Regions from separate parts of the Homo sapiens genome. Here region 2 is linked to region 1. Evidence: fine-mapped expression QTL. A gene starts in region 1. The other region holds a variant in brackets. All regions are shown on one strand. Distances are between the middles of the regions.

What was found.
Region 2: its variant is fine-mapped to the expression of GLDC in whole blood (TOPMed, PIP 0.97).

What each region holds. Positions count from the first base shown.
Region 1 is chr9:6,639,880-6,657,294 of GRCh38, forward strand. GLDC (glycine decarboxylase) reads right to left here and starts at 5,850. Exons shown (of 25, transcript NM_000170.3): 1 at 5,366-5,850; 2 at 4,735-4,813. The coding sequence starts at 5,620. RefSeq lists enhancers at 5,060-5,617, 6,598-6,707, 6,758-6,857, 7,844-8,399, 8,400-8,955 and 2 more and silencers at 5,298-5,367, 5,408-5,607, 5,678-5,927.
Region 2 is chr9:6,593,182-6,601,894 of GRCh38, forward strand. GLDC (glycine decarboxylase) reads right to left here. Exons shown (of 25, transcript NM_000170.3): 9 at 1,833-1,938. Among named protein-coding and RNA genes, the nearest start is that of GLDC, 48 kb to the right of the region's middle. RefSeq lists an enhancer at 5,267-5,506. The variant T/C (reference allele first, on the strand shown) is at 5,498.

The DNA.
Region 1 (17,415 bases):
CCAGGAAACCGAACAACAACTTCCCTAACAATTGGCCCCAAATGGCCAGAACTCGATTAATAACTGATAGCTTCCCTAATTTTTGTCCCACTTCCAACATAGGACCAACCAGGCTAAGCCAAACATGTACCCATAACCAATCACATCAGTTGCCCGACTTCTAGTAAATCCTCAGACAGCTTCCCTTGTAAACAACCTCCAATCAGAACACACCTAAAGGCTTCCCTTTTTTCCACAATAAAGCTTTCCTCTCCTCTGCCAATATGCAAGTCTGACTCCCTTGCTACAGCAAGCTCATTACAGCCTTTGTTTCTCTCATTTAGCTAATCTTTACTGTTACAGTCATTTAATGGAAATTTATTGGAATCATCCTAAAGAAGAAATAATAATTCCTATAAGCTGGGAATTGAATGAGTCGGGAATGGCCAAAGGAAAGCCTTGTCACAGACTGCGGGGCCTACAGGCAGGACCTGGCAATGGGCATCATCTGGCTAAAGACAAGTCGTGGCCTCGGCCTGGGGAACAGCTGCCACGGCCTAGTTGCCCCTGGGGTCAGTTCAGGAGAGTGCGCAACCCAACTAGGGTGACAAAGCCAACACCTGCAGCTGCATTACACAATGCTCCCTCCCTCCGCTCACTGCCCTCCATTAACCATTTAGTAGAAATCACTCTGGAACATTCAGCTGGCACAAGTCCATCATTCTGACAACTCATCTCCTCAGTTCTAGTTGAATAATGTGAACATTGGAGGGTTTAGTTTCTCCTCTCTCTTCCACAAGCAATGTGCAATTTTGTGTAAACTTTAATCCCTGCAGTTTATCTATGATTAGTTCAGTCTAGTTCAGTCTAGTTGCCTTGAGATGAATTCACTGAAAAGACTACACAGCGAGGCATACCATAGCTAAAAGTAACTGGCTTTGGTCATAAAGTAATTTTTAACTTTGAATTAATTATAAAATGAATACCTACACTGCAGAAAATTCCAAAACTGCAAAGTAATTAAAGGAAAGCTAAAACCACTAATAAGGGCACCATTCAGAGAAATCAGTGTTGCCAGTGACACATATCCTTCTAGTCCTTTTGTTGTTGTTGAGTGCGTGTGGATGGGGAATGCAGGATTCACTTGAGCAGGACAGGATTTTGAACTGAATAGCTTTGCTTGTTTCTCTGAATAATGACTTACTTAGCAGCCAGTTCATGATCAAAGTATTTTGTCAAGGCACTTTCTGAATTGTCCAAGAAGAGGGGGAGCATCCTTAGTGACTGATGAACCACCCGTCCTCCCCTGGTTCTGTCCGGCCATTCTGTCCTATACATGTTAATCCCACTACCTCCAGCAGCCTCCCCCAGATTTATCTAGCAGAGCATCACTGCTCATTCTTCAGTATTGCACTTCCGTGACCCCTTCCCTTGCCCTAGCAGCAGGCTTGAGTGTTCCCACGTCTGTGCTGCCAGGAAGCTGCTGCGTTTCCACTGGGGCAGTTGGCATATGGCAGGGTGATTCTAGTGCAACTGGGTTTGTGCACATCTGTAAACTGGATATTCCAGGTGAGTCAGGACAGAAGTTTTCCACTTTGTACACCCACGACCTTGCAAAGGACAAAATGAAGAGAGAGCAAAGTAGTGGATGGAGTGTGGACAGTGGAGCTGGGCTGCCTGGGTTTGAATTCTGCCTCCATCACTTACCAGCTATGACCTTGGGCAAGTCATGCATCATCTGAATATCACGGTTTCTTCATTTTTAAAACAGAAGTATTAATGGTATTTTCCTCATAGGGTTGTAATATACATTAATACATGAAAGCACGTTAAAGAGTGTCCAGTACATGGTAAGCACTACATAAATGTCTGAGATTACTGAGTTATGTGTAATAAGTAACCCAAGTATTTCCAAACTGATCACAATCTTTACTCTGCAATGAAGACATTTAACACTCCTATAACTAGCTCTCACTACAGTTTTCTCTGTACATGGCAAATAAATATTTAATCCAGAATTCCTTTCTGACTACACTAGAACACAGGCATTCACATGAAGCCAAGTTTGAGTAATGGTGCTCCACTATTAAATGGAAATGCTACTACCAGAGCTTACATGCACCAATTTGCTCTCCCCACCTGGAGAATATTCATTCACCATGACACGTGCACACCTCAGAGTCAAAATTCATCCTTTGCAGATGCATCCTCCTCCACTCTCCCAACACCCCCAGCTCACTATTCCAAGAAACAAGCTTTGTTGGAGAACTGGTCCATTTCAGGGAATGGGGGGACTTCTGATTGTGCAATATTTTCTGCGTGAATCATCCCAAACTAGATGGAACAAGCTCAAAATGTCACAGAAGCTGCTAGGTTTAAAATTTATATGGCATGGGCATGGTGGCTCATGCCTGTAATCCCAGCATTTTGGGAGGCCAAGGTGGGTGGATCACCTGAGGTCAGGAGTTCAAGACCAGCCTGGCCAACATGGAGAAACCCCATCTCTACTAAAAATACAAAAAATTAGCCGGGCATGGTGGTGCACGTCTGTAATCCCAGCTACTCAGGAGGCTGAGGCAGGAGAATGGCTTGAACCGGGGAGGCAGAGGTTGTAGTGAGTAGAGATCATGCCACTGCACTCCAGCCTGGGCAACAGAACAAGAATCCATTTCAAAAATAAAAATAAAAAATAAAAAAATTAAGTTTATATTCAAGTTGCAAATTACTTTTCAGGAGCCCACTTCCACAGTGAAGAATCAGAATCCCTTAATGTTCAAATTATTCAGCTGGAACCAAGAACTAAACTAAAAAAGGATACACAACTTTGCCATGTTTCCCAGGCTCTAATGCTCTGAAAAGAACACTTTATTTTAGAGTATATATATTATAAAAATAGCTAACCTAAACATTCCCTGACTTTGAAAGTCTCAGGAAGGGATTCACTTGTTCAAATATTCACCTAAAATACCCTGCTTTAAAGATACACAACTCTTCACTCTTCACACATCAAATGAATTAGGATTCTGATTTTTTCTTTTCTTCCTTTCTCTTTTTTTTTTAGACAGGGTCTCACTCTGTTACTCAGGTGGAAGTGCAGTGGAGCCATCTTGGCTCGCTGCAACCTCCACTGCCCAGCTCAAGTGTTTCTGCCACATTAGCCTCCGGAGTAGCTGGGATTACAGGCGCACACCACCACACCCGGCTAATTTTTGTATTTTTTGTAGAGATGGGGTCTCGCAATATTGCCCAAACTGGTCTCAAACTGCTGGCCTCAAGCGATCCACCTGCCTAGACCTCCCAAAATGCTGAGATTATAGGCATTTGCCACCGTGCCCAGCCAGGATTCTGATTTTCTAAAATGGAAATAGATAAGGCTTCCCTCCGACCATCCCTAAATCTCAATTAGTTCAATTCAGCAAAACATGCAGGTTTTCAACGACCATCAGATTTGAAACCAACAAAGGCAGCAGCCCTCAGCATAGCCTGAGCAGCCAACCTGAAGCAGATAGGCTCCATACCTCAAATGTCCACCTTCAAACAAAATAAAGCTTGCCATCTGCACACTAGATCCTTTCTATCATAGCAACAAAATAAAACAGCTGCTCTCTCTTCATTTGACTCTAGAAGAAAAAGAGATAAGTATCTCCATGATTGAAAGTGAGATAACCAGATGAGATTTTTTTTAAGAGCTCAGCCTGTGCCCTTGACTTATGGATTGTCCCCCCACCCCATGGAAGTCAAATACCCACATAAAAATACCCCTGAAAAGCAATCTTGGACCATTAAAAATATTTTAAACCTAAAATAAAATTCTAAGAAAGTCTATGACTAAACTGACCTTTCTTAAACAAATGTAAATCTTATTTGTGTGTTTTTCTAGAAAAACCATTCGGGGTAGGGCACAGTGACTCGTGCCTGTAATCCCAGCATTTTGGGAGGCCGAGGCAGACGGATTGCCTGAGGTCAGGAGTTCGACACCAGCCTGGCCAACATGAAGAAACCCTGTCTCTAATAAAAATATAAAAATGAGCCTGGTGTGGTGGTGCGCCCCTGTAATCCCAGCTAGTCAAGAGGCTGAGGCAGGAGAATTGCTTGAACCAGGGAGGCGGAGGTTGCAGTGAGCCGAGATCAAGCCACAGCACTCCAGCCTGGGCGACAGAGATTCTGTCTCAAAAAAAAAAAAAAAAAAAAACGAAAAAAAAAAGAAAAGAAAAGAAAAACCATTCGGACTCGAAAAGTACTGCTGTCTTTCAGTTGGTAAATAATAAAATTTGGACGTGAGGTAAGAAAACAATTGGAAGATACTGCGATCTAAAGAAGCCTGGGGGAGGGAGGCGAGATGTCTGGTCACTTCCCCAGTTGCACGACCTTAGGCAATTCCTAGATCCTTTGAGTCTATCCGGGTCTGCGCAGGTAATGACACCTCTCAACCCAAAGTATGAGAGCACCCTGGCCGGTGAGAGGGTGCCTGGGAAGTGGGGAATCTGCTACAAAACGCAGGGGAAGCTCGCGGGGGCCCTAGGATAAAGACCAAGAACCGCACAACACCGACTCTCTCCTAACACAAAACTGTCTGCTCCGAGAACCAAATATCCCACCTTCCCGCGGCTCCGGAGGTACCCGCCACTGTTTTATTTTAATCCACACATTCCCAGTCCTGAGCAATCCTTACCCCAGAGCTCGATTTTCAGGGAACCACAAAAGACAAATAGGCCAGAATAATCTAAGTCCAAGGGAGCCCTCCCGGCCACTTACAAACAGGGTCTTCCATTTTCAAGGGTCTTTTCAAACGGATGTTGGCAGGGACCGTCTTCTCGATCAATTCATCAATGCTCTAAAATTAAAACGCAAGGCAGAGGAAAGTGCCTCTGAGTTAAAAGAGTCACCTCTGTGTTTTGCGACTACAAAGCCTTGTGGGAACCTCATTGAAATCGCCTAATTAGGGTTCTTTTTAAAAGAAAAGGAAAACTCTGAGCAAGCCAGAATGATTTGGAGGAAAGAAAATCGTGAAGTGGGGTGGAGATTCCGCCACTCGGGGTTGGATTTCAGTTGCAACCGGAGCTAACCGGTAAGCCCACTCTTAATCAGGGGGTCTTCCTCCTCTTGCAAAGTTTAGGTCCATCCACAGGGCCACTTGGGCTGGGGGTGGTTTAAAAATGTACACTTTTGAGGCACGAAGACTGGGTGCAGGAGAAAGTAAGCTGTTAAGAAGTAAGAAGGCACGAGGACCAAAGGCACGAATTTGCTTCCACGCCACGGCCCGGGACCCAGGGTGCGGGGACCACGCGGAGCGCAGCAGAGCTCAGGGTAGGAGCCGGGAGGCCGCGCAGGCAGAGCCCGGGCAGGGCGGAGGGGAGGCCGCGGAGGGCCGGGTGGAGGTCCTTACCGCCAGCCCCAAGGTCTGCAGCATCTCTCTCTGGTCTTTGTCCCCAGGGCCGATGTGCCTCCGAGCGAAGTCGTCGTGTCTGGGCAGAAGGCGCTCCAGGAGGCGCGAGGCCCCAGCCGCGGCGCTGTCCCCGCCGCCACTGCTGCTGTCCCGGCTCCGCGGCGCCCAGCACGGCCCCGATCCCCCAGCCAGGCGGCGGCCGCCCCCGACCCCGCGGCCCAGGCGCAGCCCCCACGCCCTGGCACAGGACTGCATGGCCGCGGCCACCGTCCCCTGCCCCGGCCCGCAAGGGTCAGCCGCGCTCTTGGCCCCTCTCCTGGCCTCGGTCCCCCGGGTGGCGGCTGCGCCCGGCCTGGAGCCCCTTTCGCTGGACAGTCGGCCGGACAGATGGATGGACGCTCGCGGGCAATGAATGGGCGCTGCGCTCAACCAAGACACTCGCGCAAAGTTGTGGCTCCACCCAAGGCACCTGCTCCGCACACTTTAAGCGGCGCCCTGGAGGCGGGAGGTGGGTTGGGGCCAGGAAGCCCTTGGCCAATGAAAGTAGACAGAGGGGGAGGGGGCGGAACAGTTCCCGCCCCCGCCCCCTCTTCCTACCCTCTTCCCAGCCCTTCCGTGGAGTCCCGCTTCCCCTGGACCGGAGGCTGCCATCTCCAGTCCTACCCACTCCGACGCTGGCTGGTGCCGGGGGCCGGGACGCTCCGTACGCCGCCCGCCAGGGTGTGGAGCCGCACTGGGGCAAGATCAGGTGGGACAGCCCAAAGACTCCGGGCCAAGTTCCTGGGGGACTCGGCGGAGATGGAAGATGATTCTCGAAGCTCTCCATTTCCTTAATTTTGAGGTATCTTTCTCTGTCACATTTCATCTCAGGGAAATTAATATGGGCAGATGGCGGTTCTTTTATCTTTGCGGGAGCGTGATAAAGTTACTCAACCTCTCAGAGCTTCAGTTTTCTCATCTCAACAGAGCTGGATGGGATTTTAAAAAGAGATTATATGTACATGGAAAGCACTTGAACAGTAGATTTGAACACCCTCTCTATATTTCTTTTCTTTTCTTTCTTCCTTCTTTCTCCTCCTCCTCCTCCTCCTCCTTCTTCTCACTCTCTCTCTTTCTCTCTCTTCCCCCCCACCACATGTAACGCTATGGCTCACGCCTGTAATCGCAACACTTTCGGAAACCGACGCGGTAGGATAGCTTGAGCCCAGGAGTTCGAGACCAGCTTGGGCAGCATTGTGAAACCCTGTCTCTACAAAAAATACAAAAATTAGTGGGGCGTGGTTGCGTGCTTCTGAAGTCCCAGCTACTCTGGAGGCTGAGGTGGGAGGATTGCTTGAGTCAGGGAGTTTCAGGCTGCAGTGAGATGTGATCGCACCACTGCACTCCAGCGTGGGCCACAGAACGAGACTCAGGAAAAAAAAAAAAAAAAGAACTGTGTGTGTGTGTGTATATGTTTTTTTAAATATATGTACTGTATATACATATACGTGTGTGTGTAAAACTACAAAGGATATTTTGTTGTTGTTTTTGAGACGGAATCTCGCTCTGTCGCCCTGGCTGGAGTGCAGTGGCGCGATCTTGGCTCACTGCAACCTCCACCTCCCGGGTTCAAGCGATTGTCCTGCCTCAGGCTCCTGAGTAGCTGGGACTACAGGCACGTGCCACCACGGCCGGCCATTTTTTATTTTTATTTTTAGTAGAGACGGGGTTTCACCGTTTTAGGCAGGATGGTCTCGATCTCCTGACCTCGTGATCCGTCATTACAGGCGTGAGCCACTGCGCCCAGCAAAAGTACAAAGGATATTAAGATAGACATTGTTCACTGTCGTCTTACTTTGAAAGTTAGCCATCTAGAACTGGATTTTTTGTAAATGTACCATCTCCAGCTGTCTCATGACAGTTTTAGCAAGAGAATGAACTTTTAAAATTCCAGTTGTTCTAATATGGGGAAGAGAGGACAGAAGTAATCAGAACATTACTTGTACTTAGACTAGGGGAAAATAAAACCTGTTCTCTTTCTTGCTTATCTGCTAAGTTTCCTCCTCCAATCACCCTTAACAGATTCTGGGCTCCGTACCCAGGAGGCACAGACTATCCAGAGAGGCAGGAAAGTAGAGATGGAAAAGAGGGCAGGAAAATACACCACAAAGAACAGTAGGTAAAATGTCTGTATGGCAGACGGAGGCGGGTGGTGAGCTAGGACGGCTGGGCTGAATGTCTCCGAAAAGTTTTTCGGCCATTTGGAATTGAAATTACAACCTTCATAAAAGTTGGGAGATCTCCTCAGTGCCAGATGGTGGGGGTTGTGGGGAAGGATTGGAGGGAGGAGGTAATCTGCATTTATTCCTATTCCTGTCTATGTTGTTTCTATGTATCAGAGGGACTGGAAGCCAGGGAACAATAATTCCCAGATCCCTTTGGCTCCGTGGTGATGGATGTTATTTGCCTTCTGCCAAAAAAAAACATGTATATATACACACATATATGTATATGAGAATTGGGGCCGGGTGCGGTGGCTCACTCCTGTAATCCCAGCACTTTGGGAGGCCGAGGCGGGCAGGTCACTTGAGGACAGGAGTTCAAGACCAGCTTGGCCAAGATGGCGAAACTCAATCTCTACTACAAATATGAAAAAAAATTTAGCCAAGTTTGGTGGGCGTGCTTGTAGTCCTAGCTACTCAGGAGGCTAAGGCATGAGAATCACTTGAACCTGGGAAACAGAGGTTGCAGTGAGCGGAGAGCGCACCACTGCACTCCAACCTGGGTGATAGAGCAAGACTCTGCCTAAAAAAAAAAAAAGAGAGAGAGAGAGAATTGGGAAATGGAACAAAGGTAAAAACTGTTTTCTTATTTTCTGACTGCAGCAGACAGATGCATGGACCACTGCAGACATGACATGCTTCCTTACCAGCACCCCATCTTGAGGTAGCTGGGAAGCTGTATCCACCAATGGGAATGTCCTGCAGTTCCCCAGCAGGAATTTCTGTGTACTAGACTAGAGCTTCAGTGGTTGACCTGAAGATAGCGTTGGTATTCCCTGGTTTTTGCTCTTCCAGTTCTTCCAGTGGTTTTGTATGCACCCATTCCTGACATTTAATTCTCCTCTGCTTGAAATGCATTGAGTGTTTTTTGTTTATTTGTCTGTGTGATGTTGTGAAATACATATCTGGTATTCATCCCATTTCCTGGCCTGCAACTCCTAAAGTCTTGGGAATCTCCAGACTCCTGCCTTTTTGTATGCTAATGTGACTAACAGCTTCAGAATAGGGCTGGTCACTGGAAAGACAAAGACATAATGGGAGTTGAGACTTTCAGCCCCACCCTCAACTTCTCAGTAGGGCAGAGGGTCAATGATCAATGCTTAATCAATCATGCCTTCCTAATAAAGCCTCTATAAAAACCCAAGAGCCGGACGTGGTGGCTCATGCCTGTAATCCCAGCACTTTGGGAGGCCAAGGCTGGCGGATCACTTGACGTCAGGAGATTGAGACCAGCCTGGCCAACAGGGTGAAATCCCATCTCTACTAAAAATACAAAAATTGGCCGGGCGCGGTGGCTCACGCCTGTAATCCCAACACTTTGGGAGGCCAAGGTGGGCGGATCACAAGGTCAGGAGATCGAGACCATCCTGGCTAACACCGTGAAACCCCATCTCTACTAAAAATACAAAAAATTAGCCGGGCGTGGTGGCGGGCACCTGTAGTCCCAGCTACTCAAGAGGCTGAGTCAGGAGAATCACTTGAATCCGGGAGGTGGAGGTTGCAGTGAGCCAAGATCATGCCACTGCACTCCAGCCTGGGCAACAGAGGAAGACTCGGTCTCAAAAAAAAAACAAAAATAACACACACACAAAAACCCAAGAGGAGAGGTTTCAGAGAGCTTCTGGATAGCTGAATACACACAAAGTGGCACATGGGGAGAGGCCATGGAAGGTCCTCACCCCTTCTCCCATACCTACCTCGCCCTGCGCATCTCTTCATCTGTGTTACTTGTAATATCCTTTATAAAAAATCAGTAGACATAAGTGTTTCCCTGAGTTCTGTGAGCTATTCTATCAAATTAATCAAACCCAAAGAAGGGATCATGGAAACCCCAGCTTCAAGCTGATCCGTCAGAAGTTCTGGAGGCCTAGAATTGCAACTGATGTCTTGGGGACTGAGCCCTCAACCCTTGGGATCTGGCGGTATCCCTAGATAGAGTGTCAGAATTGAAGTGGAGTGCACCCAGCTGGTGTCTGCCTCAGAACCGACTGCTTGCTTGTTGGTGGGGAGAAATCCCCATATATTTCGGGATCATGGAAGTCATCTTCTTCTTTCTGTTTTTCCATTGAGACAGAGCCTTGGTCTGTTGCCCAGGCTGGAGTGTAGTGGTGCGATCTCAGCTCACTGTGACCTCGACCTCACAGTTTCAAGCAATTCTCCTGCCTCAGCCTCCAGAGTAGCAGGGACTACAGGCATATGCCACCACACGCACTAATTTTTGTGTTTTTTTTTTTTAGTAGAGATGGAGTTTCCCCATGTTGGCCAGGCTGGTCTCAAACTCCTGACCTCAAGTGATCCGCCCACCCTGGCCTCCAAAAGTGTTGGGATTACAGGCATGAGCCACCACGCCCAGCCAGATCATGGAAATCTTCTGTGTTGATTGTTGTAGTGTGGTGTGAGACCAGAGGAAGCACAGTTATAGTGCTTTTTCAAAACAGTTAGTTTTCCTGAATAAACCCAAACAAAGGCTATAATGGAAGCCAAAAGCAGATTGAGGAGGGCTTAATGTTTGGGTGAAAAAGGCAAGAGATTCCTGAGAGACACATTCACTCCCTGCCATTGTATGAGCTTTCAGGGAGTTTTTTCCTTTGCCTCCCCCTTTTCTTTTTTTTTTGAGTTTTGCTCTTGTTGCCCAGGCTGGAGTGCAATGTCCCGATCTCCGCCTCCCAGGTTCAAGCGATTCTTCTGCCTCAGCCTCCCGAGTAGCTGGGATTACAGGCATGCGTCACCACGCCCAGCTAATTTTTTCATATTTTTAGTAGAGACGGGGTTTCTCCATGTTGGTCAGGCTGGTCTCAAACTCCTGACTTCAGGTGATCCGCCCGTCTCAGCCTCCCAAAGTGCTGGGATTACAGGCGTGAGCCACCGCACCTGGCCTGCCTCCACTTTTGTTCCTCCCCTGCCCGTTCTGCTCTAGCACAAATATTTTGTCCTGAGCCAGCTTCCACCTCTTATTCAGAAGTCTCATCAGAATACTTTTCTTTTTTTTTTGAGACAGAGTCTCACTCTGCTGCCCAGGCTGGAGTGCAATGGCGCAGTCTCAGCTCACTGTAACATCCGCCTCCCGGGTTCAAACAATTCTCTTGCCTCAGCCTCCCGAGTAGCTGGGATTATAGGCACCCGCCACCATGCCCAGCTACTGTTTGTATTTTTAGTAGAGATGGAGTTTCACCATGTTGGCCAGGCTGGTCTCGAACTCCTAACCTTGTGGTCGGCCTGCCTCGGCCTCCCAAAGTGCTGGGATTACAGGCATGAGCCACCACAACTGGCATTCATCAGAATATTCTTATGTAAAGTCTAAAAGAAAGAAGACTTAAAAATAAGAAGAAAAAAGCAAAGAGAAGAAAAGAAAAAGAGAAGAGGATGAAGAAAGTGGACAGTAATGTAACAAACTTGGTGACATTTCGGGAACCATAGCCCTTGAAATGAATAAAGGGGCCAGGCACGGTGGCTCACACCTGTAATCCTAGCACTTTGGGAGGCCAAGGTGGGTGGATCACCTGAGGTCAAGAGTTCGAGACCAACCTGGCCAACGTGGTGAAACCCCATCTCTACCAAAAAATAAAAAAATTATCCAGGCGCGGTGGCACACATCTGTAGTCTCAGCTACTTGGGAGGCTGAGGCAGAGAATCGCTGGAACCTGGGAGGTGGAGGTTGCAGTGAGCCGAGTTCACCACTGCACTCCAGCCTGAGTGACAGAGTGAGACTCTGTCTCAAAAATAAATAAATAAATAAATAAACTTATATATGTGCAGTTGACAATGGTCTTTTTACGCAGAGCTATACATATAGAAGTTGTTCATGGGGCTGAGCATGATGGCACATGCCTGTAGTCCTAGCCGGGACCCAGGAGTTCTAGACCAGCCTGGGGAGCCCAGCGAGACCCCATCTCAAAAAAGTTGGGGGGTGTTGATGTAGACCCTAGACTTGAACAGTTTACAGGTGTCAAATTGTCTGATTCCAGAATTGCTCTGAATTCTGGCTATGGATAATATGGCATAAATTCAGATGAACTTCTTAGGCACTATGATGAAATTGGACCATAAGTGAAATTTTGGAATTAATTGGAAACCCTTCGTATCCATGAGGTCTTGGGGGTACTGCTCCAGGAGTCCCAGCTATTTAAAAATTTAAAAATTAAAAAAAAAAAAAAAAAAAGGCTTGGCATGGTGGCTCAGGCCTATAATCTCAGCACCTCAGGAGGCTGAGGAAGGAGCATTGCTTGAGACCAGGAGTTTGAGACCAGCCTGGGCAGCATAGCCTGGCTGTCTCTACAAAAAATTTAAAAATTAGCCAGGGCTGGGCACGGTGGCTCATGCCTGTAATCACAGCACTTTGGGAGGCCAAGGTGGGTGGATCACCTGAGGTCAGGAGTTTGAGACCAGCCTGGCCAACATGGTGAAACCTCATCTCTACTAAAAATACAAAAATTAGCCAGGCATGGTGGCGAGCGCCTGTAATCCCAGCTACTCAGGAGGCTGAGGCAGGAGAATCGCTTGAACTTGGGAGGTGGAGGTTGCAGTGAGCCCAGATTGCGCCACTGCACTCCAGTCTGGGTGACAGAGTGGGAATCCATCTCAAAAAAAAAAAAGCCGGTATTGTGACACATACCTGTGGTCCTAGTTATAATCACACCACTGCATTCCATCTTGGGCAACAGAAGACTCCATCTCTTAAATGAGAAAGAAATCGCCAGGTGCAGTGGCTCACGCATGTAATCCCAACACTTAGGGAGGCCGAGGTGGGTGGACCTCTTGAGGTCAGGAGTTCAAGACCAGCCTGGGCAGCATGGTGAAACCCCATCTCTACTGAAAATACAAACATTAGCCGGGCATGGTGGCAGGCGCCTGTAATCCCAGCTACTCAGGAGGCTGAGGCAGGAGAATTACTTGAACCCAGGAGGTGGAGGTTGCAGTCAGCCAAGATTGAGACACTGCACTCCAGCCTGGGCAACAGAGCAAGACTCCGTTTCAAAAAAAGAAAAGAAAGGGCTGGGCACAGTGGCTCACGCCTGTAATCCCAGCTCTCAGAGAGGCAGAGGAGGGAGGATAGCTTGAGCCCAGGAGTTCCAGACCTGCCTGGGCAGTATAGCGAGACCCCATTCTCCGCAAAAAGGAAAAAACAAAACAAAAAAAAGACAAAGAAAGAAAGAAAGAAATCTTCGAACTTGGAATGGGAACATGTTTGTAGCTTGGAATGAATTTTATTATCTTGAAACCCCAAATCCCACTGAGTCTCCTTTGATAGGTAAACCCATTCCTCCTGCCCTCTTTCATAAACTGGCAATACCTTGCATGAAGATCCTGTAATGACTTCGCTAAAGGCACTAACCTTGCAATGGAATGTCAATGCTTCTTTGCTTTCAGATCCACAACCAGAATCAGATCTTAACCATACCCCAAGAAGATGAGTAGAACATTTGACATCAGAGGAGAAGCTTACACAAGGAAAGAATTGCAAAATGTTGCTAATATATATTATCACCAGAGGGTTTCTATGGGAGTGGATTCTAAACCAGACAAAAAGGAATATAAAATTGAAATTATTGATTTATTTGTAGTACGAGAGATTCTGGATTCAGTGTGTTAGCTCAATCAGCCAGGAGTGGCTTTTTAGTTTGCTGAGTTGATTGATGAAATCATACTTAACAGTGCCTTCATTAAATTAGGTTAAGATACTAGGACTTCTGTCCGGGCACAGTGGCTTGCACCTGTAATCCCAGCACTTTGGGAGGCTGGGGAGGGTAGATCACTTGAACCCAGGAGTTCTAGACCAGCCTGAGCAACATGGTGAGACTCCTGTCTCTACAAAAAATATAATAATTAGCTGGGTGTGGTTGCATGCCTCTGTGGTCCCAGCTATTCTGGGGGCTGAGGCAGGAGGATTGCTTGAGTCTGGGAGGTTGAGGCTGCAATGCGTCATGATTGTGCCACTGCACTCCAGCCTGGGTGACATGTCTCCAAAAAAAAAAAACCTGTCTCAAAAAAAAAGAAATCCTAGAACGTCCTTGGAATAATAGAGAAGGATCTAAGTCTTGGTGAGAAAGGAATGTTGAAGTAGATTTGTCATGAGTAACACACTCTTCCGCACTTTCAGTGTATCCCTCAGAAGAAACCAGAGGACAATCCCTTCACCAGAGTATTGGGAAGTCCATTGGTAAGAGCAGCACCAGTGTTTTTGAAAAGTCCTGTGGCTGCGGTCCTCTACAGATATAAGATGGTGGTACACAATGGAACTGTTGAGATGGGCTCCTTGATTCTAATGTTAATGATGGAATCCTGGAGTGGTAGAAGCCAAGTGGCAGCACTGGTCAATGGAGATGAGCAACGTTGTCATAATGGGCAGTGGATCAGAGGGGTAACCCGTCAGGTGATCCACGGGGATCTTTGGTGTTCACAAATTGATGGGCAGACTACTAAAGATGTAACTTGATCTGGTGAACAAAAACTTGATATAAGTCTCCAAAATTGAGAGACCCAGCTTTTCAACCAATTCCCTGACTTCAGAGAGTTCACAGACCCAGATGAAGGGGAGGTTGAAAAAGGACTCTTGAAAAAAGATCTTACCAGGCTATGAGAATATACTATAAATCTTCCTTCTGAACTCCCTCAAAGATACCTGTGGCCATTTACTAAGGACACAAAAATACCCAGGCATCTTAGGTTACTAGAACATAAGATAATGGTAAACCCTACATATCTAAAACCACTCTGGGCTGGACATAGGAGACTGAGGCAGGAGGAGCACTTCAGCCCAGGATTTTGAGGCTTCATTGAGCTATGATTTTGACAATGCACTCCAGCTTGGGTGACAGAGCAAGACCCTGTCTTAAAAATAAATAAATAAAAATAAAGGCTAGGCTCACGCATGTAATCCCAGCACTTTGGGAGGCCAAGGTGGGTGGATCACTTGAGGTCAGGAGTTCAAGACCAGCCTGGCCAATATGGCTAAACCCCATCTCTACTAAAAATACAAAAATTAGTTGGGAATGGTGGCATGTGCCTGTAGTCCCAGCTACTCAGGAGGCTGAGGCACGAGAATCTCTCGAAGCTACTAGGTGGAGGTTGCAGTGAGCTGAGATCGCACCACTGCACTCGAGCCTGGGCAACAGAACAAGACTCCATCTCTAAAAAAAAAAAAATGAACAAATTGAAAATCAATAAATTTTTTTGACACATTAGGTAGGAACACGTAAATGGTAATATTTTTGATAAATTAAGGAAGGCTGAGTGTGGACAGGTTTGAGGGGGATGTCCAGAGCTTGCTTCATAGCAAAAGCTTACTCTCCGAAGGAAGGGACTGTGCCAGAGCTTTATCCCAGCTGAGGAATGGAATGCCTCGTACTCTAGCCTCCTCCAGCCTTCTTGTCTTACATAATGAAGGAAAAATAAAAGAAAACAGAATAAACGGGTCAGGGCTGAGAGGAAATCAACCAGCGACTCTGCAGCCAGAGAACACAGGACAGAAGAGAAAGGAACTATATCACTGGAAAAACAATTGTGAAGTTCATAGCCCAAGACAGAGGGCTGTGAAAACACCAGTATTTAATTGGAACATTATAGAACACACCCTGTTTCCAAAACTTAACTACAGCACCAGCAGGGCTTTCATAGTAACAACTGAAGGTGCTGCAATACACAGACTGCCCCTGAGGAAGAGTACCGTAGACCCCCTTATTTGTGGTTTCGCTTTTCATGGTTTCAGTTACCTGCAGTTAACCACCTTCTGAAACCATAAATGGAAAATTCCAGAAATAAACAGTTCATAAGTTGTTGGGTTTTTTTTTGTTTTTTTGTTTTTTGACACAGTTTCACTCTTGTTGCCCAGGCTGTAGTACAGTGGCGCGATCTCAGCTCACCACAACCTCCGCCTCCCGGAGTCAAGCGATTCTCCTGCCTCAGCCTTCTGAGTAGCTGGGATTACAGGCATGCACCACCATGCCCGGCTAATTTTGTATTTTTAGTAGAAACAGGGCTTCTCCATGTTGGTCAGGCTGGTCTCGAACTCCTGACCTCAGGTGATCCACCCGACTCAGCCTCCCAAAGTGCTGGGATTACAGGCATGAGCCACCGTGCCCAGCCAACAGTTCATAAGTTTTAAGCTACATGCTGTTCCAAGGAGCATGACAAAATCTCACACTGTCCTGCCCCATCGCGCCTGGGATGTGATTCATCCCTTCGTCCAGTGTATCCATGCTGTTTATGCTGTGCACCCTCAGTCACTTCGTAGCTTTCTCAGTTGTCCCATTCTCAGATTGACCATCAGGATATTGCAGTGTTGTGTTTTACTTAATAATGGCCCAAAATTTCAGAATAGTGATGCTGGCAATTTGGATATGCCACAGAGAAGCTGTAAAGCACTTCCTTTAAGTGAAAAGGTGAAAGTTCTTGACTTAATAATATGTACACCATGGAATATTATGCAGCCATAAAAAAGAATGAGTTCATGTCCTTGCAGAGACATGGATGAAAAAGGCGAAAACTAGTCAGGTGTGGTGGCATGTGCCTGTGGTCCCTGAAACTGGAGAGGCTGAGGTGGGAGGATTGCTTGAGCCACAATCACACTACTGCACTTTAGCCTAGTGATGGAGCAAGACGGAGGCTGGTCTTGAACTCCTGGGCTCAAGCAGTCTGCCCACCTGGGCCTCCTAAAGTGGCTGGGATTACAGGCATGTGCCACCACGCCCAGCTAATTTTGTATTTTTAGTAGAGACGGGGTTTCTCCATGTTAGTCAGGCTGGTCTCGAACTCCCAACCTCAGGTGATCCGCCAGCCTCGGCCTCCTTTAAGTGCTGGGATTACAGGTGTGAGCCACTGCATCCGGCCTTATTTTTGTATTTTTAGTAGAGACAGGGTTTCAGCATGTTGGCCAGGCTGGTCTCAAACTCCTGACCTCAAGTGATCTGCCTGCTTCAGCCTCCCAGAGTGTTGGGATTACAGGCGTGAGCCACCGCACCCAGCCAGAAGTGAAGTTTCTATATGAATGTCAATGTTATTGCACTAGGTTTAATGCCATGCTGTGACCTCTCAGATTCTTTTACTAAAGATGAGATATGACATATGCAGATTCTGGATTCCTAATAAAACAGCCAAGCAGGACTAGCTCCCAGGTGATACTTTCTTTCCCAAGAGAAGCAGAATTATAAAGGATTTAGATGCAAGGTTGGTACCTTAATATTCTTTCCTGGCTGGCTAAGTGTGAAGTGGGGAAGGAGGGAATGGAGGGATACAGGGGCCCTGTCCAAAAATATCACTTCCCACTATAAGCTAATTAAAGATACATTTGTGTTAACTAGTTTCTCCTTTGAAAGCAATTACTGCCATGCCAAGCCTCATTAACAACTCAGTATGACTTCCTTTAAAGAGAAAATCCACTCAGCTCTTAACTGGCCCTGTGAGTGTCCAGCTAGAGTCCTTGGATTTATCGAAGAGCAAATTTATGAAGTAGATACTTCTTCGTTTATTACAATTAAAGAGGAAAGGCAGATTCGAAAAGATAACTGTGGTCACAGGTGGTAGAGAAAATGCACTAGAGGAGGACCTGCCTTCAAGTATCTCATTGACCAGCACAGGATTGTGAAAGGACAGAAAGCCAAAGACTGATTCAAAGCCCAGAGGCCACTAATTTACTGTTAAGGACACACGGGCAATGTGCATAGAGCATTTGCTTCCACACCTGGCTATTACTTTGTGTGTTTGTGTGTGTGTGTATCAGGATTTTAATGTACAGCTGGCCGGTGACTCAACACAACCCCATGGCTCTGAACTGTCTCATTCAAATTGTAAGTT
Region 2 (8,713 bases), 51 kb before region 1:
AGAGTAAGGAAAATCAACATACAATTGCATTACTGCGTGTATTTTGGTGTATTATTTCTCAAGAAATGGGGGAGCAGGTAGTATCAGATATATATATATATATATAAAATTATACCTTTTTTTTTTTGAGAGATACAGTCTCACTCTGTTGTCCAGGCTGGAATGCAGTGGCATGATCATAGCTGATTGCATCCTCAAACTCCTGGGCTCAAGCTCATGCAATCCCCTTGCCTCAGCCTCCCAAGTAACTGGGATCAAGGACTCATGCCATCACACCTGGCTAATAATTTTTTAAATTTTTTGAAGACAGTGATCTTGCCATGTTGCCCAGGCTGGCCTTGAACTCTGGGACTCAAGCAATTCTCCCACCTCAGCCTCCCAAAACGATGGGATTATAGGTGTGAACCACCACACCTGGTCTCATCTATGCTTTCCTATAGATCACTATTTTAAACCATATTTAATGGCTGTACAATAGTCAAACATATGGATGAACCATGATTTAATCACTTTTTTTTTTTTTTTTTGAGAGATGGAGTCTCACTCTGTTGCCCAGGATGGAGTACAGTGGAGCAATCTTGGCACACTGCAACCTCCGCCTCCTAAATTCAAGCAATTCTCCTGCCTCAGCCTCCCGAGTAGCTGGGACTACAGGAGTATGCCACCACTCCCAGCTGATTTTTGTATTTTTAGTAGAGACAGGGTTTCACCATGTTGGCCAGGCTGGTCTTGAACTCCTGACCTCAAGTGATCCACCCGCCTCAGCCTCCCAAAGTGCTAGGATTACAGGCATGAGCCACTGTGCCTGGCCTATTTCTATTTTTTTATAGAGATGTGGTCTCGCTCTTGCCCACGCTGGTCTTGAACTCCTGGCCTCAAGCAATCCTCCTGGCTCAGCCTCCAGAGTAGCTGACATTACATACACGAGTAACCATGTCTAGCTCACTACATAGCAGCATTCTTCTGATTGCCAATGTAATGGGATAAATACTAGTTTATTGCTTTATTTTGTATCTCTTTCATTAATAATGAGGCTAAAATTCTATGTCTACTGGCCATTTATTTGTATACTTATTTCTTTTAAAATTACATTTAATGTCTTTTGCCTATTTTTCTATTAGGGTGTTCATCCTTCTTATGTTTGGGGCCGGTAGGAAAGTAAGAGTTCTACATATTAAAAATATCACAGCTTGCCAGGAGTAAAAGAGAAAAAAATATTAACACTCAGTCTAAGCCAGGCATGGTGGCTCACGCCTGTAATCCCAGCACTTTGAGAGGCCAAAGTGGACGGATTTCTTGAGGTCAGGAATTCGAGACCAGCCTGGAAAACATGGCAAAGCCCTGTCTCTACCAAAAATACAAAAATTAGCCAGACATGGTGGCGTGTACCTTAATCCCAGTTACCTGAGAGGCTGAGGCAGGACAATCACATGAATCCGGGAAGTGGAGGTTACAGTGAGCTGAGATCGTGCCACTGCACTCCAGCCTGGGAGACAGAGCAAGACTCCATTAAGCAAGGAAGCAAGCAAGCAAGCAAGCAAGCAAACAAGAAAGCAAGAAAGCAAGCAAGCAAGAAAGCAAGCAAGCAAGAAAAAAAGAAAGAAAGCAAGAAAAAGGAAATAAAAGAAAGAAAGAAAGAAAGAAAGAAAGAAAAAGAAAGAGAAAGAAAGAAAGCAAAACAACAAAATAATCATGGATGTTGAAAGTATTTTTCCTCGTTTCTCACTTGACTTTTAATTTTGCATATAGTATTGGACATGCAATATTTTCAATTTTACTCAAATTTATCAATTTTATTATGCCCAAATGTTTTAGACAGATTACCAACTCACCTTCTGACAAAATCAAAGTGGCATTATGTACCCTCCTAGCAATATGCTCCAGCCCATGGGAACCATGGTAGATTGCAAACATGGCAGCCATATTCGCCAAGAGGGCCTAAAAGATAAGAACATTTAAAGAATCACGTGATGGAGGACAATTAGTGGGAGGGTGTAATTACTTGACTTGGGATGTCAAAACTGAAGACAGCGACAAAACAAAATGATCAGATTTCCTACATTCTTTGATAGTTGGGGACAATTAATATATAACCTGCCTGACTACCTGAAAGGAACCATCATCCAAGACACCCTGGAGTTGTTACTATACTAAACCTTCACATTTGACCATTACGAAGGGCTTCTTCCATGCAACAAAATCATGTCACCCTTAAGGGCAAAGATCACACTACCATCAGACATTGAGAAGCAATGTTTAATGTTGGAAGACAGTGAAGCAATAAAGACCTCAGGGAGAAAAAGTGAGATCTGAGAATTTTACACTCAACCAGGCAATTCTTCAAGAATAAAAAGAAACAAGCAATTTTCAAACATTCAAGAACTTCAGGAATAAAATTCTCCTAAGAACTTAAATAAAACACTAGAGGCTGAACTTCTGCCAACCAAGAGTTGAATGGAGAATCTGTGGCAAAGGACTGGCAAAAACGGCAATGCGCACTTCAGCTGGGAGCGGGGTGGTGTGCAACTGTAGTCCCAGTGACTCCAGAAGCCGAGATGGATCACTTGAACCCAGGATTTCGAGGTTACAGTGACCTATGATTGCGCCACTGGACTCCAGCCCGGTTGACAATACAAAACCCTGTCTCTGCAAAATACAGTTGATGTTCAATACTGGGTCCATTTTGTTAGGTACATCTTTTTTTCTGCTAGACTACTAGAGGAAGTCTCTATGGAGCCAATGCAAAATAAGAAACAGTTTCCAAAGGTGAAGTCAGCAAACAAGGAAGTAAATGAGGAGAAAGAGACATCAGAAAACATGGAAGTAGGCATTCTTGTACTAAAAGTCCTAGACAAAGTGTAAACACTCTTATGGACTCCTTACAACAATCAGAAATAAACACAGAAACTCCACAGCACTTTACAGCTGTGGAAAAGGCGAGGCTGAGGTAAAGAATCTGTGACACACTGTGCCCAAATGCTCATGGCTGTGTTGCTGGAAACAGAAACCCAGGCCTGACATTCACAGAATGCCCTGGCAGCCTCCACCACAATATTGTAGAGGTTGGTTCATGTCCCTTTTTAATCTACAGATGATTCCTTCCATAATCAGGAGGCTATATCACACGGCTGAACAACAAATTGATGAGAAGTATAAAACCACTTTTTAAAAACTTCAAAGGGCACTAGAATATCAAAAGAAGAACCAAAAAAATTAAAATAGAGACCAAGAAAATGACAATTTCTTTCACAAATTGAACAAACTTAAAAATACAAAGGGCTTGAATCAGTGGCTCACGCCTGTAATCCCAAGACTTTGGGAGGCTAAGGTGGGAGGATTGCTTTAGCCCAGGAGTTAAAGACCAGCAAGAAGAACATAACAAGACCCCATCTCTAAAATAAATAAATAAAATAACAATAATACAATTAAGGTACTTAAAAGCCTCAAAAGCTAATGAATGCTCAAAATCATTAGTTATTAGGGAAATACAAAACAAAACCACAGTGAGATTATCACTTGACATCCAATAGGATGGCTATAACCAAAGGATAGGAAGTAACAAGCATTGGTGAAAATACGGAGAAATTAGAATATTCATATGCTGCTGGTAGGAAAGTAAAATAATGCAGCCACTTTGAAAAATGTCTGGAAGTTCCTCAAAATGTTAAATGTAGAGTTATATGACCCAGCAATTTCACTGCTAGGAATATAACCAAAAGAACTGAAAACATTACATCCATACAAAAATTTACACAGAAGTGTTCACAGCAGGCTTATTTGAAACACCCCAAATGTTTACCAATTGATGAATGGATAAACAAAATGTAGCATGTCCAAACAATGGGATATTACCCAGCCATAGAAAAGAATTAAGTACACATTCATGCTACAATATGGATGAACCTTGAAAACCTTATGCAAAGAAGCCAGGTACAAAAGGCCACACATTGTATGATCCCATTTATATGAAATATTCAGAACAGGCAAATCCAGGGAGACAGAAAGTAGAATAGTAGTTGCCAGGGGCTATAGGAAGGGGAGAGGGATGAGGAGTGACTACTTCATAGGAATAGAATTTCTTTTTGGGGTAATAAAAATATTCTGAAATTAAATACTGGTGATAGTTGCACAACCTTGTAAATAGAGTAAAAACCATTGAGCTGTATACTTGCAATTGGTGAAACTTACGGTGAGTTACATCTCAATAAAAAAAGCTAATAAAGTGTAAATTATTCTTTACTACACCTGACTTTAGAAAAGCCAACAAGGCTGGATGCAGTGGCTCACACCAGTGATCCCAACACTTTGGGAGGCTGAGGCAGGAGGATCGCTTGAGGCCTGGAGATCAATACTAGCCTGGGCAACAAAGTAAGACTCCCATCTCTATTTTAAAAAGATTTTTATATTAAAAATAAGAAAAGCCAATGAAAGAGCTGCTCATTGTGGTAGAAGCTAAGAAATAAGAGAATATATGGCCGGGCATGGTGGCTAACGCCTGTAATCCCAGCACTTTGGGAGGCTGAGGCAGGTGGATCATGAGGTCAGGAGATCGAGACCATCCTGGCTAACATGGTGAAACCCTGTATCTACTAAAAATACAATAAATTAGCCAGGCATGGTAGCAGACACCTGTAGTCCCAGCTACACAGGAGGCTGAGGCAGGAGAATGGCGTGAACCCGGGAGGCAGAGCTTCAGTGAGCGAGATGGCGCTACTGCACTCCAGCCTGGGCGATGGAGCGAGACTCGTCTCCAAAAAAAAAAGAAATAAGAGAATATAAAGAACAGAACATAATGAAAATTCAGACATCTGTAGTAATGCCACAAATTTATAGAAAAAATTGTTTCTTTTCCTTTTTGTTTTGTAGAGGTGGGGTCTGATTCTGTCACCCAGGTTGGAGTGCAGTGGTGTGATTGCAGCTCACTGCAGCCTGGACCTCCCCAGCTCAAGCACTCCTACCACCTCAGTCTACTGAGTAGCTGGGATACTGGTGTGTACCACAACACCTGGCTAATTTTTGTACTTTTTTTATATAGACAGGAGTCTCACTATGTTGCCTGGGATGGATTTAAACTGCTGAACTCAAGTAATCCTCCTGCCTTGGCCTCCTAAAGTGTTGAGATTACAGGTGTGAGCCACCGCACCCTGTTTTTTCAGTTTTGTTTTAGAATGGGGCCTGCTGAGCCAGAATAGGCTCAGAGAGACTCCCTATAGAAAAATTTATTTAAAAAAGAATCATTAACACACTTTCAGAGATTAAAAAAGAGTCATGCCCCATCCACGATGCGAAACTAAGAGTGGACTCCCCCACCCACCCCAGTGACAAGAGAGAAGAGCAAGAGTGAGAAGAATGTGGAACAGCTGCTACAACAGAAGGCGGGGGTCAAAGACCTACAGCACAAAAGGAACAACTCAAAAGACACCAGTCATCTCCTAACAAAACAGGGAGACTTGCATGCTCACAAAGAGTGAAACTGGAGTTATGAGTAATTCTTGTA[T/C]GCAATCAACTATGAAAAGGCACATATGCAGTGAAATAGACAGTGAAGAGTTAGAAGATCATCAGAATAAGAGGATGAAAATCAGACAAGCTGGAGTATGGCCATCTCCAGGGCAAACATTTTAACAATTGCTGGAAAAGATACAGACCTTTCAACCCAAGTTAAATAATAAATTATCAGCTATACATGAACTGGAAGAAATTAAGCAACAGGAACATAAGGCCGGGCACAATGGCTCATGCCTGTAATCCCAGCACTTTGGGAGGCCAAGGCGGGCGGATCACCTGAGGTCAGGAGTTCGAGACCAGCCTGGCCAGCATGGTGAAACCCCATCTCTACTAAAAATACAAAAAATATTAGCCAGGCATGGTCGTGGGTGCCTGTAATCCCAGCTACTCAGGAGGCTGAGGCAGGAGTATCGCTTGAACCCGGAAGACGGAGGTTGCAGTGAGCCGACATCACGCCATTGCACTCCAGCCTGGGCAACAAGAGAAAGACTCCGTCTCAAAAAAAAAAAAAAGAAAGAAACAGGAACATAACTGGTTCACTGCAGACAGCCCAAATTCACCTGGAAAATGAACCTAGAGGCAGAAAACTGAGGCCCTAAATGGACTTATGATCAGACGGAAACCTGGAGGAACCTGAGGAGAAACAGCAAGACAGGAGCAGTCAGCTGCACCGAAAGGGAAAACGTAAGCAGAGAATTCAACAAATGGAGGGTAAGCTACAGAAAGTGAGGCCACCATATAAAGATCACCATGTGGCCAGGCATGGCGGCTTATGCCTGTAATCCCAGCACTTTGGGAGGCCGAGGTGGGCAGATCATGAGATCAGGAGTTCGAGACCAGCCTGACCAACATGGTGAAACCCTGTCTCTACTAAAAATAGAAAAATTAGTTGGGCATGGTGGCAGGCGCCTGTAATCCCAGCTACTCAGGAGGCTGAGGCAAGAGAATCGCTGGAAACTGGAAGGCAGAGGTTGCAGTGAGCTGAGATTGGGCCGCTGCATGCCAGCCTGGGTGACAGAGCAAGACTCCATCTCAAAAAAAAAAAAAACAACCAAAAAAACAAATAAATAAATAAAGATCAGCTTGCTGTTCAACAGAGGAAAAGCCTGTGCCAACCACCTTTCCTTCCTATCATACTGGAAGAGCTCATATTTGAAAAGAGGTGGCACCTTCCTGAGGCAAAACATAATACAAAAGGACCAACTGAGGAAATGGCTCCAAAGACCCGTGGCTGCAGAACCAACTATAAGAAGATCTTATTGCCCACTGCCTTCCTGGAGAAGCTTTTCAGAGGTGGTTCTAGACGCCAAAGCCCTGAGACGAAAGAGCACTCTACCTCCCATTGAAGCACCTGTGACATCTCTCTCTGACACTTCATGGAAGAGATGCAATTACAGTGGCCAGGCACGGTGGCTCATGCCTATAATCCTATCACTATGGGAGGCCAAGATAGGATCACTTGAGCTCAGGAATTTGAGACCAACCTGAGCAACAAAGTGAGACCTCGCCTCTACAAAACATTTTTTTGAAAATTAGCTGGGCGTGGTGGAATGTACCCATAGTCCCAGCTACTTAGGAGGCTGAGACCGGAGAATAATTTGAGCCCTGGAGGTTGAAGGTTGAGGCTGCAGTGAGCTATGGCCATGCCACTGCACTCCAGAATGGACAACAGAGCAAGAATCTGTCTCAAGAAAAAAAAAAAAAAAGAAGCCAGGTGCCATGGCTCACACCTACAATCCCAAAATTTTGGGAGGCCCAGGCAGGACCATCACTTGAGGTCAGGCGTTTGAGACCAGCCTGGCCAACATGATGAAACCTGCCTCTACTAAAAATACAAAAATTATCTGGGTGTGGTGGCCTGTAATTCCAGCTCTTTAGGAGGCTGAGGCACAAGAATCACTTGAACCCAGGAGGCAGAGGTTGCAGTGAGCCAAGATTGCGCCACCCCATTCCAACCTGGGTGACGCAGGAACAGGACTCTATCTCAAAGAAGAAAAAAAAAGAAGAAGAAAAAAAAAAAGAGATGCACTTAGAATGGATCCTGTGCTCAGGAGTGGGCCTCCAACTGATCCTAGGGTTTGGCTGGGTTTCACAAACACTTCGACCTAAGCCCTGGAGCAACTTCAAGGAGCAGAACCCAGAACCCTGGTCAGAACCCAGGAAGCTCTTCCTGTTTTATCCCATCCTTTTAAAGAATGCCAGACATGGCCAGGTGCAGTGGCTCATGCTTGTAATCCCAACACTTTGGGAGGCCGAGGTGGGTGGATCATGAGGTCAGGAGTTCAAGACCAACCTGGCCAAGATGGTGAAACCCCGTCTCTACTAAAAATGCAAAAACTAGCCTGGCGCTGTGGCAGGCGCCTGTAATCCCAGTTACTCAGGAGGCTGAGGCAGGAGAATTGCTTGAAACCGGGCAGCAGAGGTTGCAGTGAGCTGAGATTGCGCCACTGCACTCCAGCCTGGGCGACAGAGTAAAACTCTGTCTCGAAAAAACAAAAAAAAGAATGCCAGTCATAATCTCCCAGTAAGAGTGCCTCATGACTACCACCATCCCCTCAAGCACAGTCATCACAAATGCCCTTGCTTTGCCTTCCTCAACCCATTCCTGGAGAGGCTCCTTCTCAGTCCTAAGAGAGGGTGTCTCAACTGCCACCCATAACAAACCTGGCCCAACGCCAAGAATACTAGAGACCCTGATATCCATCTTTCTATTTACATATATTTTAAGTCTGTATATAAAAGTGAAGACTGGCCTTTTTTGTCCTTTCTTACGCTTTGCCTGTTCAGGATCTGAAGATGTGATTATGGGTAAAATGAAACAAATAATGCTTTTTATTTTTTTTAGTATTAAAACATGTATGGTGAAGAGAAAGCATAGGCAAATGGTGTACATATAAAGAACACCAGTAAAACACAGTGTCTTTTTCTTTAACTTTTTTTGTGGGGGCAGGAGTTGGGGACAGAGTCTCCCTCTGTCACTCAGGCTGGAGTGCAGTGGCATAATCATGGCTCACTGCAGCCTCAACCTCCCAGATTCTGGTGATCCTCCCACCTGAGCCTCCCTAGCACCTGGGACTACAGGAGCATACCACCACTGACGGCTAATTTATTTTATTTTATTTTTCATAGAGATGGTGTTTCGCCATGTCGCCCAGGCAGGTTTCCAACTCCTGGGCTCCAGCAATCTGCCTGCCTTGGCCTCACAAGG